Linked DNA regions of Homo sapiens. The protein of the gene in region 2 purifies or fractionates together with the protein of the main gene of each other region. This does not show direct contact. Each region holds a gene or a part of one and is shown on either strand. Other genes may lie near its edges. The genes, in order: DAGLB, PCDHAC2 and RAB6B.

What was found.
Region 1: the proteins of PCDHAC2 (region 2) and DAGLB purify together in Homo sapiens (co-immunoprecipitation; 3 studies listed by BioGRID and IntAct, with this or other methods). This does not show direct contact.
Region 3: the proteins of PCDHAC2 (region 2) and RAB6B purify together in Homo sapiens (affinity purification with mass spectrometry; 2 studies listed by BioGRID and IntAct, with this or other methods). This does not show direct contact.

The regions. Positions count from the first base shown.
Region 1 is NC_000007.14:6,441,411-6,445,062, forward strand, and holds part of DAGLB (diacylglycerol lipase-beta), read right to left. Parts: intron 1-3,652.
Region 2 is NC_000005.10:140,976,341-140,979,992, forward strand, and holds part of PCDHAC2 (protocadherin alpha-C2 isoform 1 precursor), read left to right. Parts: intron 1-2,608; coding exon 2,609-2,667; intron 2,668-3,652. Other genes in the region: PCDHA1 (protocadherin alpha-1 isoform 1 precursor), read left to right, coding at 2,609-2,667; PCDHA2 (protocadherin alpha-2 isoform 1 precursor), read left to right, coding at 2,609-2,667; PCDHA3 (protocadherin alpha-3 isoform 1 precursor), read left to right, coding at 2,609-2,667; PCDHA4 (protocadherin alpha-4 isoform 1 precursor), read left to right, coding at 2,609-2,667; PCDHA5 (protocadherin alpha-5 isoform 1 precursor), read left to right, coding at 2,609-2,667; PCDHA6 (protocadherin alpha-6 isoform 1 precursor), read left to right, coding at 2,609-2,667; PCDHA7 (protocadherin alpha-7 isoform 1 precursor), read left to right, coding at 2,609-2,667; PCDHA8 (protocadherin alpha-8 isoform 1 precursor), read left to right, coding at 2,609-2,667; PCDHA9 (protocadherin alpha-9 isoform 1 precursor), read left to right, coding at 2,609-2,667; PCDHA10 (protocadherin alpha-10 isoform 1 precursor), read left to right, coding at 2,609-2,667; and 4 more. UniProt on the Homo sapiens protein: Potential calcium-dependent cell-adhesion protein. May be involved in the establishment and maintenance of specific neuronal connections in the brain.
Region 3 is NC_000003.12:133,833,271-133,836,922, forward strand, and holds part of RAB6B (ras-related protein Rab-6B), read right to left. Parts: intron 1,372-3,652; coding exon 1,305-1,371; intron 1-1,304. UniProt on the Homo sapiens protein: The small GTPases Rab are key regulators of intracellular membrane trafficking, from the formation of transport vesicles to their fusion with membranes. Rabs cycle between active GTP-bound and inactive GDP-bound states.

The DNA.
Region 1 (3,652 bases), on a different chromosome or scaffold from region 2:
ACATTTTTTTCTTTTTTTTTTTTTTGAGACAGAGTCTCACTCTGTCGTCCAGGCTGGAGTGCAATGGCGCGATCTCGGCTCACTGCAACCTCCGCCTCCCGAGTTCAAGCGATTCTCCTGCCTCAGCCTCCCGAGTAGGTGTGACTACAGGGGCCCGCCACCACGCCCAGCTAATTTTTTGTATTTTTAGAAGAGACGGGGTTTCACCGTGTTAGTCAGGATGGTCTTGATCTCCTGACCTCATGATGCACCCGCCTCAGCCTCCCAGAGTGCTGGAATTACAGGTGTAAGCCACCGCGCCTGGCCTTCAATACATATTTTTAATAAGGCATATAATGTTATGTGCAACAAACTGACAATTAAACGAACATGTTTTTATAAAATACTGTTTTCAGTTTGGCTGGGATATCTCTACCCACAAGTTACAGAAAATTCAACTCAAACTGGCTGAAAAGCAGGAAGGGCCACAATGACTCGAGCGACTGAGTGCAGAAGCAAGACGGCATCGGGGCTGCCCTGACCGAGACAAGCCTCCATCTCCTTGTGCTTCTCCCAGCTCTCCCCTGCCCTGTATGTCAGCTTGCCCTGCGCTGTGAGTGGAGACACAGCTTCAGCCAGGAGAGCGACGATAAATGGCTTTTGGATCCTTCCTAGAGGGGCAAGGAAGCACTTCCCCAGAACCTTCCACCAAACTCTCCCTGACTCTCACTGGGCCAAACTGGGTCACGTGTCCATTCCTGAACCAATCACCAATACGTGAGCCCGGCCTAGGGTCTGCTTCTCTGACGCATACTTGGTATGTGTGGGATGGGGGCAAAACAAAACGGGGTTCTGTTTGGAGGAGGCTGTGGGATAGACAACCCAGAACACTCCGACAACCCACAGATGACTTCTGAGCTCTGACCACAAGTACATGATGATGCAAGCATTGTACGAGTGTCTAGGAAGAGGGAACGGAGTGAATATGAGCATCCCTCACAGGGAGGTAAAGACGTCCCAACACCAAAAATATCTCAACACAAACAAACATGTAAGGAAAAAAAAAAGTACACCGACTGCTTCCACTCTGACCCTGCTATTACAGCCACAAACTCAGTGGTCTAACCAGAATGTGAGATGAACAAAAAAGGGCAAATAAGTTAGATAATGCTGTATCTGAAATGACACCAGTCTCAATACTTCACCTTCAATAAGAAGCTTCCCAGCGCTGAAGCCACACTGTACACATGGTTTCTTTCTTTCCTTAAGCATCTGGCACCAATGACAGCCTACATTTGGGGGCCAACACAAACGTGGAGCCTCCATCAATCCAGCCTCCTTGCGTGGATGTTTCTAGAGGCATACTAAAATACACAGAGCTAGCTGGGTGCAGTGGCTCACACCTGTAATACCAGCACTTTGGGAGGATGAGGTGGGTGGATCAGCTAAGGTCAGGAGTTCGAGACCAGCCTGGCCAACATGGTTCAACTTTGTCTCTACTAGACCAGGTGCAGTGGCTCACGCCTATAATCCCAGCACTTTGGGAGGCTGAGGCGGGCGGATCACGAGGTCAAGAGATGGAGACCATCCTGGCTAACACAGTGAAACCCCGTCTCTTCTAAAAATACAAAAAAAAAAAAAAAAATAGCCAGGCACGGTGGCGGGCGCCTGTAGTCCCAGCTACTTGGGAGGCTGAGGCAGGAGAATGGCGTGAACCCGGGAGGCGGAGCTTACAGTGAGCCGAGATAGAGATAGTGCCACTGCAGTCCAGCCTGGGTGAAAGAGCGAGACTCCATCCGGAAAAAAAAAACAAAAAACAAAAAAAACAAAACAAAACAAACAAAAAACTTTGTCTCTACTAAAAAAAAAAAAAAAAAAAAAAAAGAAACTGTCTCTACTAAAAATACAAAAAAATTAGCTGGGTGTGGTGGCACGTGCCTGTAATCTCAGCTAGTTGGGAGGCTGAGGCAGAATTGTTTGAATCTGGGAGGCAGAGGTTGGTTGCAGTGAGCTGAGATTACGCCATTGCAGTCCAGCCCTGGGCAACAAGGGCAAAACTCTGTCTCAAAAGAAAAAAGTAAAATAAAATACACAGAGCTCTGTTTTCTATGTTACTGTGGTAATCAGGCACATGCCACTCTTGCTGGTCATCCCAAACCCTAAGGTCTTTTTCTCATGAAAGATGTTGCTGCTAACATTTCTACCCTCTACATTGCTCCTATGAGCTAACACCTTTTACATTTCAGTCCTTTATTCCAAACTGTCAAGATCTTGATGCCGTCACTCACTGTATCACCAGCGCCTCCCAGTGCACCTCACCACCAGCATATATCTGATATGCATACCTCGTCCATCCCAATTCAAGCAGTGACAAAGGACTAAAACATGGCGGATGGTGGCATGTCACACAGCCCTGCCTCTGACCAATGAATCATTTCTAAGAATGCATTCCTTTATTAGTCACCACAGTGCTCACATCATCCTATGAAGCAGAGGAATCCAACAGGGAAGGTTTCCAACACTTCTGGAGACATTCTCAGATAAATGGTTATCTACAGAAAACTGTAACACATATAAAAAATATGAAGAATAGGTGATCAGACGCGGTGGTTCACCCCTGTAATCCTAGCATTTTGGGAGACCGAGACGAGAGGATCACCTGAGCCCAGGAGTTCAAGATCAGTCTAAGCTATATAGCAAGACCCTGTCTCTACAAAAAATAAAAATAAAAAAAATTAGCCAGGTATGGTGGCACGTGCCTGTACTTCCAGCTACTTGGGGGTTGAGAAGAGAGGATTGCTTGAGCCCAGGTATTTGAGGCTGCAGTGAGCTATGATTGCGCCACTGCCCTCTAGCCTGGGCAACAGAGCAAGACACTGTCTCTAACAACAACAAAATAGTTGTAACCCTCACAATGTAAAAATAAAAGGGACCAGGCGCGGTGACTCACACTTGTAATCCTAGCACTTTGGGAGGTCGAAGCGGGTGGATCACGTGAGGTCAGGAGATCGAGACAAGCCTGACCAACATGGTAAAACCGCATCTCTACTAAAAATACAAAAATTAGCCAGGCGTGGTAGCGGGTGCCTGTAATCCCAGCTACATGGGAGGCTGAGGCACAAGAATCACTTGAACCCAGGAGACGGAGGCTGCAGTGAGCAGAGAGCACGCCACTGCACTCCAGCCTGCGCAGCGGAGGGAGACTCTATCTCAAAAAATAAAAATAAAAAATAAAAGGATCAATAGCCTAGTCTAAAATTGGGCAAAAGATCTGAACAGACATTTCCGCAAAAATGATACACAAATGAGCAATAAGCAAATGAAAGGATGCTCAACATCATTAGTCACCAAAGAAATGTTCCTCAAAGCCATGAGACAAAAAACAAATGGCCTGTGGCCCCAGCTATTCGGGAGGCTGAGGCAGGAGAATCACTTGAACCCGGGAGGCAGAGGTTACAGTGAGCCGAGATTGCGCCATGGCACTCCAGCCTGGGTGACAGAGTGTGACTCCGTCTCAAAAAAACAAAACAAAACACAACAAAACAAAATCATGAGCTACCACTTCACATTCACTAGGATGGCTATAATTAACAAGTCATATAATAAGAGCGTTGGGCAATTAGAACCCTTATACACTGCTGGTGGGAATGTAAAATGGTACAGCTGCTTGGAA
Region 2 (3,652 bases):
AGGTGTTCAAGACCAGCCTGGCCAACATGGTGAAACCCCATCTCTACTAAAAATTCAAAAATTAGCCAGGTACGGTGGCAGATGCCTGTAATCCCAGCTACTAGGGAGGCTGGGGAAGAAGAATTGCTTGAATCCGGGAGGCAGAGGTTGCAGGGAGCCAAGATCGCGCCACTGCACACCAGCCTAAATGACAGAGTAAGACCCTATCTCATAAATAAATAAATAAATATAAATAAAACACAGACTTTTGTGTTAAGGGGACCTAAACATGACTGTCAGCTGAACTCAGCAATCAGACAAGTAATTTAATCTCTCCAAAGTTCAGATGTCTCATTTTTGCAATTTAAGTACAATAATGTTGACTTTGCATTATAGTTCATTTATTTAAACACATTTTAAAAACCTCCCAGATGCCAGAAGCCTGCTAGACTCTGACTATATAGCTACGCTTTTATGAATATCTGAAGATATGCATGTGTCTAATGAGCAAAACAGATATAATCCCTTTCATAGAGTTTACTGTCTGACAAAGAAAGAATTAGGATACATGCAACAGTATGTAATAAAGTGCAAAATCTAGTACTGTGTAGCTACTTAAAACATATTATATGCTTTCTTCCTTTCCTTTTCCCTGCCTGATCTTACTGCCATAAGAAATCTTGTAACTGTGATTCTGTCAAATGAATCTAAGAAGGATGTTGTTGCTGATGGACTAGTATAGAAAATAGCAGCATGACAAATTAAATGTGTCATTGGGGAAGTGAGATTGTATAATGAACTGAGTTTCCTGGTCAGTCCTGCTGGAACTGTGCCTTTCAGCAAAATGAGTTTGATGATTTCATTCCAAAGATCAAGTTGCAGCAATTTTCATCATGAATGTTACCCAATCATAGAAAAATTGGCAACATTTCTCAGCAGATGTTACAGTCTTTCTCAAAGGAAGGTTCTCTCAGCTGACAAGCTAACGATAGTGCTCCTGATGGCGAGGGGAGAGACGGTGATGATGACTGATTGATAAAAAGTATTTTAGTCATATTTCCAGGTTTATAAAATGATTTGCAAACATTTTCTTTTGTTCCCTCTAACACCGCTAGTAGATAATGGAAACTCCTTTGATTTGGTCTGTAGATAATTTTATGCTATGTTATATGGAATATCCACAGCATTTTGTGAACTTGAAAACAAAGGAGGAAGCAGCTTGCATATGCATATCTTGCTAGCAGATTGGTAGAATAGAGAGAGCAGTTAGCATGTGAGGACCATTGAGGTAAAGTATCCCAGAGTTGTAACTTTTTCTGGGCCTTGACTTTGGCTAATTCTCTGCATGCCAAATATCATGTAGCCATCCAGAAATCTGTCTGAATATTGAGATGGTGATCATTTCTCTCCTGGGTGTTATGAAGAAATGTGTTTATTAAATACTTTGCATCCCTTAAAGGAACTATATGAATGATAGGAATAAGAATTATTGACAGTTTTGAATGGTCTATTGATATTACTATGGCTTTGTTTCTACCAAATATGGTAAGTATAATGTAGAGGAAAATACAAAATACAACTTTTATCCCCCATTTTTTTCATTCAACTATACCTCAATATTCAGTGACAGGGCCACCTCAATCTCCGCCCATGAAAACGCATCTAGAGGAGTGTCACAAGTTTTTCACAGTGACATTTTTGCTTACTGATACAAGACAGTGATGGTGACTGATGATGTCCCAGTGATTTCTGAGTAGCTTCTAACCAGCACATAACTCCCCCAACAGTCTTTAAGTCTTTAGGTGCCCATATTTTCCTCTTTGTTCTCCCCCTTCAGACTGAGAGTTTGTAGAGAGAGGGCAACAGATCTTTTCAATACACAACTAATGCAAAATGTATCAGGTTTTTCTTGGATTTCAGCTACTCCCTGTTAAACAATCAGAGCTTAGTGAACAGTGATTCAGTGAGGAGGGAAAGCACTCAGGAAGGAGCAGGAACAAGTACAAGTTTATGAAAAGGATTAGCTAGCAAAACAAGGTCAAACTCTGCAATAGTTTGTTTTCCTCTCCCTAGTATCCCTCTTCAATCAGAAAAGAGACTGTTATCAGTTGCTGGTGTTATGACTGGGCACATCCGCCCTGGGTCAAATATGCTGCAGTCTGCAAAGCCAGCAGCAGATTGCAGTCCTCTGCAGTCCAGCCAGGCCAGCAGAACTTGTGTAGCCATGTGCCCTGTTATAGCTGTAATACTGAATTGGGAATGTTCCCTTAATGGGGCACTTGAGGGCAAAAGCAGTGAAAGCTTTTCCTTTCTCAAAGCAGACTGTTCTTCCCGTAGTGTTTTAAGAACACAGACATGTATTGGGCAAGGCAAAGCCAAAGGTGGCCTTTACAAGATTATTAAATCTGGTCTTCCAGGGTATCTAATCTGTGTGAGGACCCTGATGAACTAATTTTCTTCTAAAGTGCTATATATGTAGATATCATCATAGAGTTACACATGAAATGGCTCATTCAATACTTTTTTAGATGCCTGGAAATATTTAAGGGAGTAACTAATCAATTAGCAGCATTCCTGGGAGAACATTGTCTTGTCATTTTAACAGAAAACTCTCTTTGTGATTTTGCAGCCACGACAGCCCAACCCTGACTGGCGTTACTCTGCCTCCCTGAGAGCAGGCATGCACAGGTATGTATTTCCCTCCTCATTCACTCAGAAGTAACCTTAACTTGGTATGGCTCAGATAAACTGCATCTCCATAGGCCAGAAGCAGCTGTCAAAACTAAAAAGCTTTAGGTACTTTGCCAGGAAAATGCAATTATTTTGTCCCCATGTTTATTCCTTGAAAGATCGCAAATGGTCAGTGCCAGATGCTTATCAAGTGCTGGCATATAAGAGTCCTCTGTAAAATCACAGAAACAGGCTGCTATGTATTTTCTCCCATCAAAATTTCTACAGGGAAGTAATTTCAACCTCCTTCATCCCTCTCTACCTATGCTTTCTTTTCCTCCTTTAAAAACTGTAATTAATACTCATGCTTTGAGACTTGGGTACATTGTGCAATGTATACATACATGTTGTCTACCTTGTTTTTTTTTTAATCTCACATTGGCTATTACATCCTATTACCCTCAATAATTGATTGCTATTGTTGTTTGTGTTCACACCTATTAGAGCCTCCTCATCTTTCCCATCTGTTGCTATCTTATTGTCATCAATGACATGGTTCTTCAGAAGATGAGCCATGTAAAGGGCTCCAAATCTAGCTTACTTTAAATTAACCTAGAGTAACGGTATTAGTCTAAGACTCAGATTAAATATAATTTTGCTTTCTCTACTTTGTCTCTCTGACAGTAATTGATTAACTACCATTATTTCTGGAGGTGATCCAGTATCCATGCCATGGGGCCAAATAAAAGATTCATTATTTGCGAATGTCTTTGGAAACCAAATGGGAAGGACCAAGAAACAAATGATCACAACTATCAAAAGGATTTAATTTTAAAGAAGAAATAATCTTCAAACTTAAGCCCCTCAAAATATCTGGGCAACTATCAAGTGAATATTCACCAAACTTAGATCAGTTCGTAAAGAGAAAGCCTACAAAGTATGTGTAGAGTTAATGTGAAATTAGTTTTAGCCCATTAAAATGCATTAGATTGAAATAAATTAA
Region 3 (3,652 bases), on a different chromosome or scaffold from region 2:
AAGTTTCTGAGCCTCAGTTTCCTTATCTGTGATTGGAGTCTCATAACTGACCAACCAGGAGATACTCCTCAAACCCCCTCCTCTCGGCCACTGCTTGTCCTCTGGTGACACACAGACCGTGGGACTGCTGGGGCACCTGCTCCTTGGTGAGCCTTCCTGACCCCCCCGGGGGGTGGGTCTCGAGTCTGCTCTGAGAGCTCCTTGAGCAAGGCTGGAGAGGCCTAGCTTCCCTCCAGGCCTGTGTCAGGCTCCCCCTTGCTGCAGCCCTGGGACTCCTGGTGTCCTGCCCGCCCTGCCCCAGCAGCTCCATGAGGCCTCCAACATTAAGCTGTGTGCTTCTTTTGCTTTTGATTCTCATCAGCCCAAAGGTGCCCTTCCATCTTCCCAGGGCCCTTCTTTGATCTGTCAGGGATGTCTACCCTCAGAGGCCTATAGGATCAGTGGGGGATGTTGGAGAGCTGCTGTGTAGGGACAGGTCCACTGTAAAGGATGCCAGCCAGGGATCTGCATGCTTGTTTTCTGGTGGCTTACTCAGGCAGGGACATCTGACTAGATGCAGGGGAGGCCCAGGTGTGGGCAATGGCTTCCCCTGCTGAAACAGTTTTCATCTGATTCTCTCAAATGCCCTTAGAGGGACAGTGTCCCACATGGAATAGGGCTGGATATGGAGGAAGCAAGCCTGAGTGTGAATCCTAACTGTAACTTACATGCTGTGTGACACTGGGCAAACCAGACTACCTCTCTGAACCTCAGTTTCAGCATCTAGGTGTCTCTTCAGGTTGGGGCTGGTTTGTGGGTGATGCGCAATGGTCCCACAGATCAGTGGGGAGCCTCAGGAGCTGTTCAGGGCTGGGTAGAGAAGGTGGGCGGGACAAGGAGGGGGCATCTGTCTGAAGGGGGGAGCTGTCTTGAGTAGACTGAACCACGTTGAGATCATATCCCCAGTGACAGAGACTTCCCTGCAGTGGAGACTCTGCCTGTGTTCATGAAACCCATAAACATGCTCGCTGTAAAGAAGGGCAAAGTCGCTGTTTCTCACTCCCCACCCCACAGCATCACTCTGTGCACACCCCTTTGGTATCTTCCTGCTATTCTGGAAGAAGAAGTAGATGGTTAGAGCCAGACGGGGGCTCCAAACCATAGGGTTCAGCTGCATCCCGCCTAGAGGAGGCCCCGTGCCATTCGCGGCAGACCAGGGAAGGCTGGGCGGGGACTGGGCGAGTGTCTGTCCACTGCACTAACATATTCAGTGAATAAATGGCTTCTATACATCTTTTCACTCACTTGTCAAAGGAAAAGGATACTCCCTTCTTTGCTTTTCTCCTGGACATTCTCCATTCCGGGTAGAGCCGACGCCACACGTCGAAAAAGCTGGAAAGATGAAGAAATGCAGTGTGAACCCCAACCCTGGCCCTCCCCTCTGCTCCTCACTGCACCTGCACCCTCACCCCTCTTCCCCTCCCAACCTGCAGCTTTACTCTCCCATCTGCCCAGCGGACGGTGCCCTCAAAGGCAGGGGCTGTGCCTATGTTCTCTCTCCCCCACCTCTCACAGCATTGGGTCTGGGCAGGCCTCAGTAGCTTGTGGAAGGAAGGAACAAAGCTGTGGCCTCTCACCCAAGCAGACTGGCCATAGGGTCACTGGGATGAGCTTAGGTCATGGCAGTGACTGCAAGGGACTTCCTCTGGTGCAGAAAATGGTTTGGGCCTCTGGGTGACAGGCCTTAAGGTGGGCTTCTGCAAACAGCCCTCATGGGGACCAGGCATGGGGAAGTGACTTGCCCTTGAGATGAATGACTCTGCTTGGGGAGCCCTGCAGGTCCGGCGCCAAGGCAGCGAACAGCAGGGCCAGGGCTGCATGGGCACAGTGGTGAGGCTTCTCTGAGAGCGCGAGGGATGCAGGAGTGTGAACACAATTTTGTGGGCTTGTTTGGATGTGTAGGAGTGTGAGTTGTTTATTGTGTGTAGGAGTGTGTGTACAGTGTATGTGTTTTATCTGTAGGACTGCGTGGAAAATGTGTGTGTTGTGAGTGGTGCGTGTGGGTAGGTGCATGTATGTTTGTGTAAGCATATGGGGGAATGTTTGAGTGTGGTGTGTGTGAACGTGTGGCATCTTTATGTGTGTGTTTGTGTAAGTGTGGGGGGAATGTGTGCATAGTGTGTGTCCTTGGTAAGGTGTGTGTCTGCGTACATGTGGGTTTTCTGTGTGTGTGTGTGTGTGTGTGTGTGTGTGTTTGGGCAGGTGTGGGTGGCAGGGGACAGGTGGCAAGTGGCAGATGGGGTGCTGGCAGAGATGGAATCTTGGAGGTGACAGGTACGAGGCAGAAGTATGAGGCACAGAAGACTCTGAACTGCTAGGTTCTGAATGCCGGTCCCCCTGCAAATTCCTATGTTGAAACAGAATCTCCAATGTGACAGTATAAAGAGGTGGGGCTTTAGGAGGTGCTTAGTCAGGAGGGTAGAGTCCTCATGAACGGGATGAGTGCCCTTATGAATGAGGCCCGAGGGAGCCTGTCTGCCCCTTCCACCTTGTGAGGATGCAGCAGGAAGGTGCCATCTAGGAGGAAATGGGCCCTCACCAGACACTGAATATGCCTGCACCTTGACCATGGAGTTCCCAGCCTCCAGAGCTGTAAGCAATACATTTCTGCTGTTTATATGCTACCCTGCCTATAGTGATTTGTTACGGTAGCCTGAAAGGACTAACCCAGGAGCACTCCCGCTGTCCTCACAAATGTGAATTGCAGGAACTGGGTGGGCTCTGGGCTCATACCCTCCACTGCATGAGCTCTCTGAAGACAGGGTGAGTCTTATTCATGGCCTCACCCCAGAGCCCAGCCCCAGCTGAGCACCCGGGCTGGGTGACAGGGCTAAAGGCCATGAGGGCCCAAGGGGGGAAGCTGCTGGTGGGCCCAGCATGGTGTGAGACCCTTGTGGGCGGGCTGCAGAGGAGGCTCTGCAGTGGGGTAGCCATTAGTAGGCAAGGGTAAAAGGGCCCAGGCCATCCTTCCTGAGCTTTCCTTCATGGCATTGGCCCTGGGCGGCTCTGATCTGCCTGTCTGGCTCTCAAAACAGTCACAGCCTCTACTAGTGGCCAAAATGCCACTAGGGATTTTGAAGGGTGCTCTAGGATCAGGTATGGGTTTCTAGGGTCAGGTATGGGTTTCTGTGAGTGGATATGCTCACATTTAGATCCAGGAGTCTGCACTGCATGGACACTCCTCTGAGCCACACAGGGTTCGAAACTGACCACATTTAACTCCTGCTAAACCACTGCATGGGTTCCAGAGCACTCTGGGGGTAGGGGCATCAGTGCCTCCCTGACCCTGACGGCTGAGGCAGATGCTACCTGCCCTATGGACCTCCTGGTGCTGCCCTGCCCTCCCTCTGCTTCCCTGCTTCCCATGACTTTAGGGCTCCCAAAGAGTAGCAGCCCAGTCTCTCCTGCATGCCCCCAGGGAGCAGGAAGGACCATGACAGCTTCAGCCCCACACCAAGGGAGGCTGGGAACAGATGGGAGTGAGTGAAGCCCTGATGAGGACACTCTAGTTAGGGTGGGGCACTGAGTCCTGGAGCTTTGGGGCCCCCAGTGTCACATAGTGTCCCTTCCACCCTTCTTGTCTCTTCTTGTCGTTCTGCCAGCCCACCTTCCC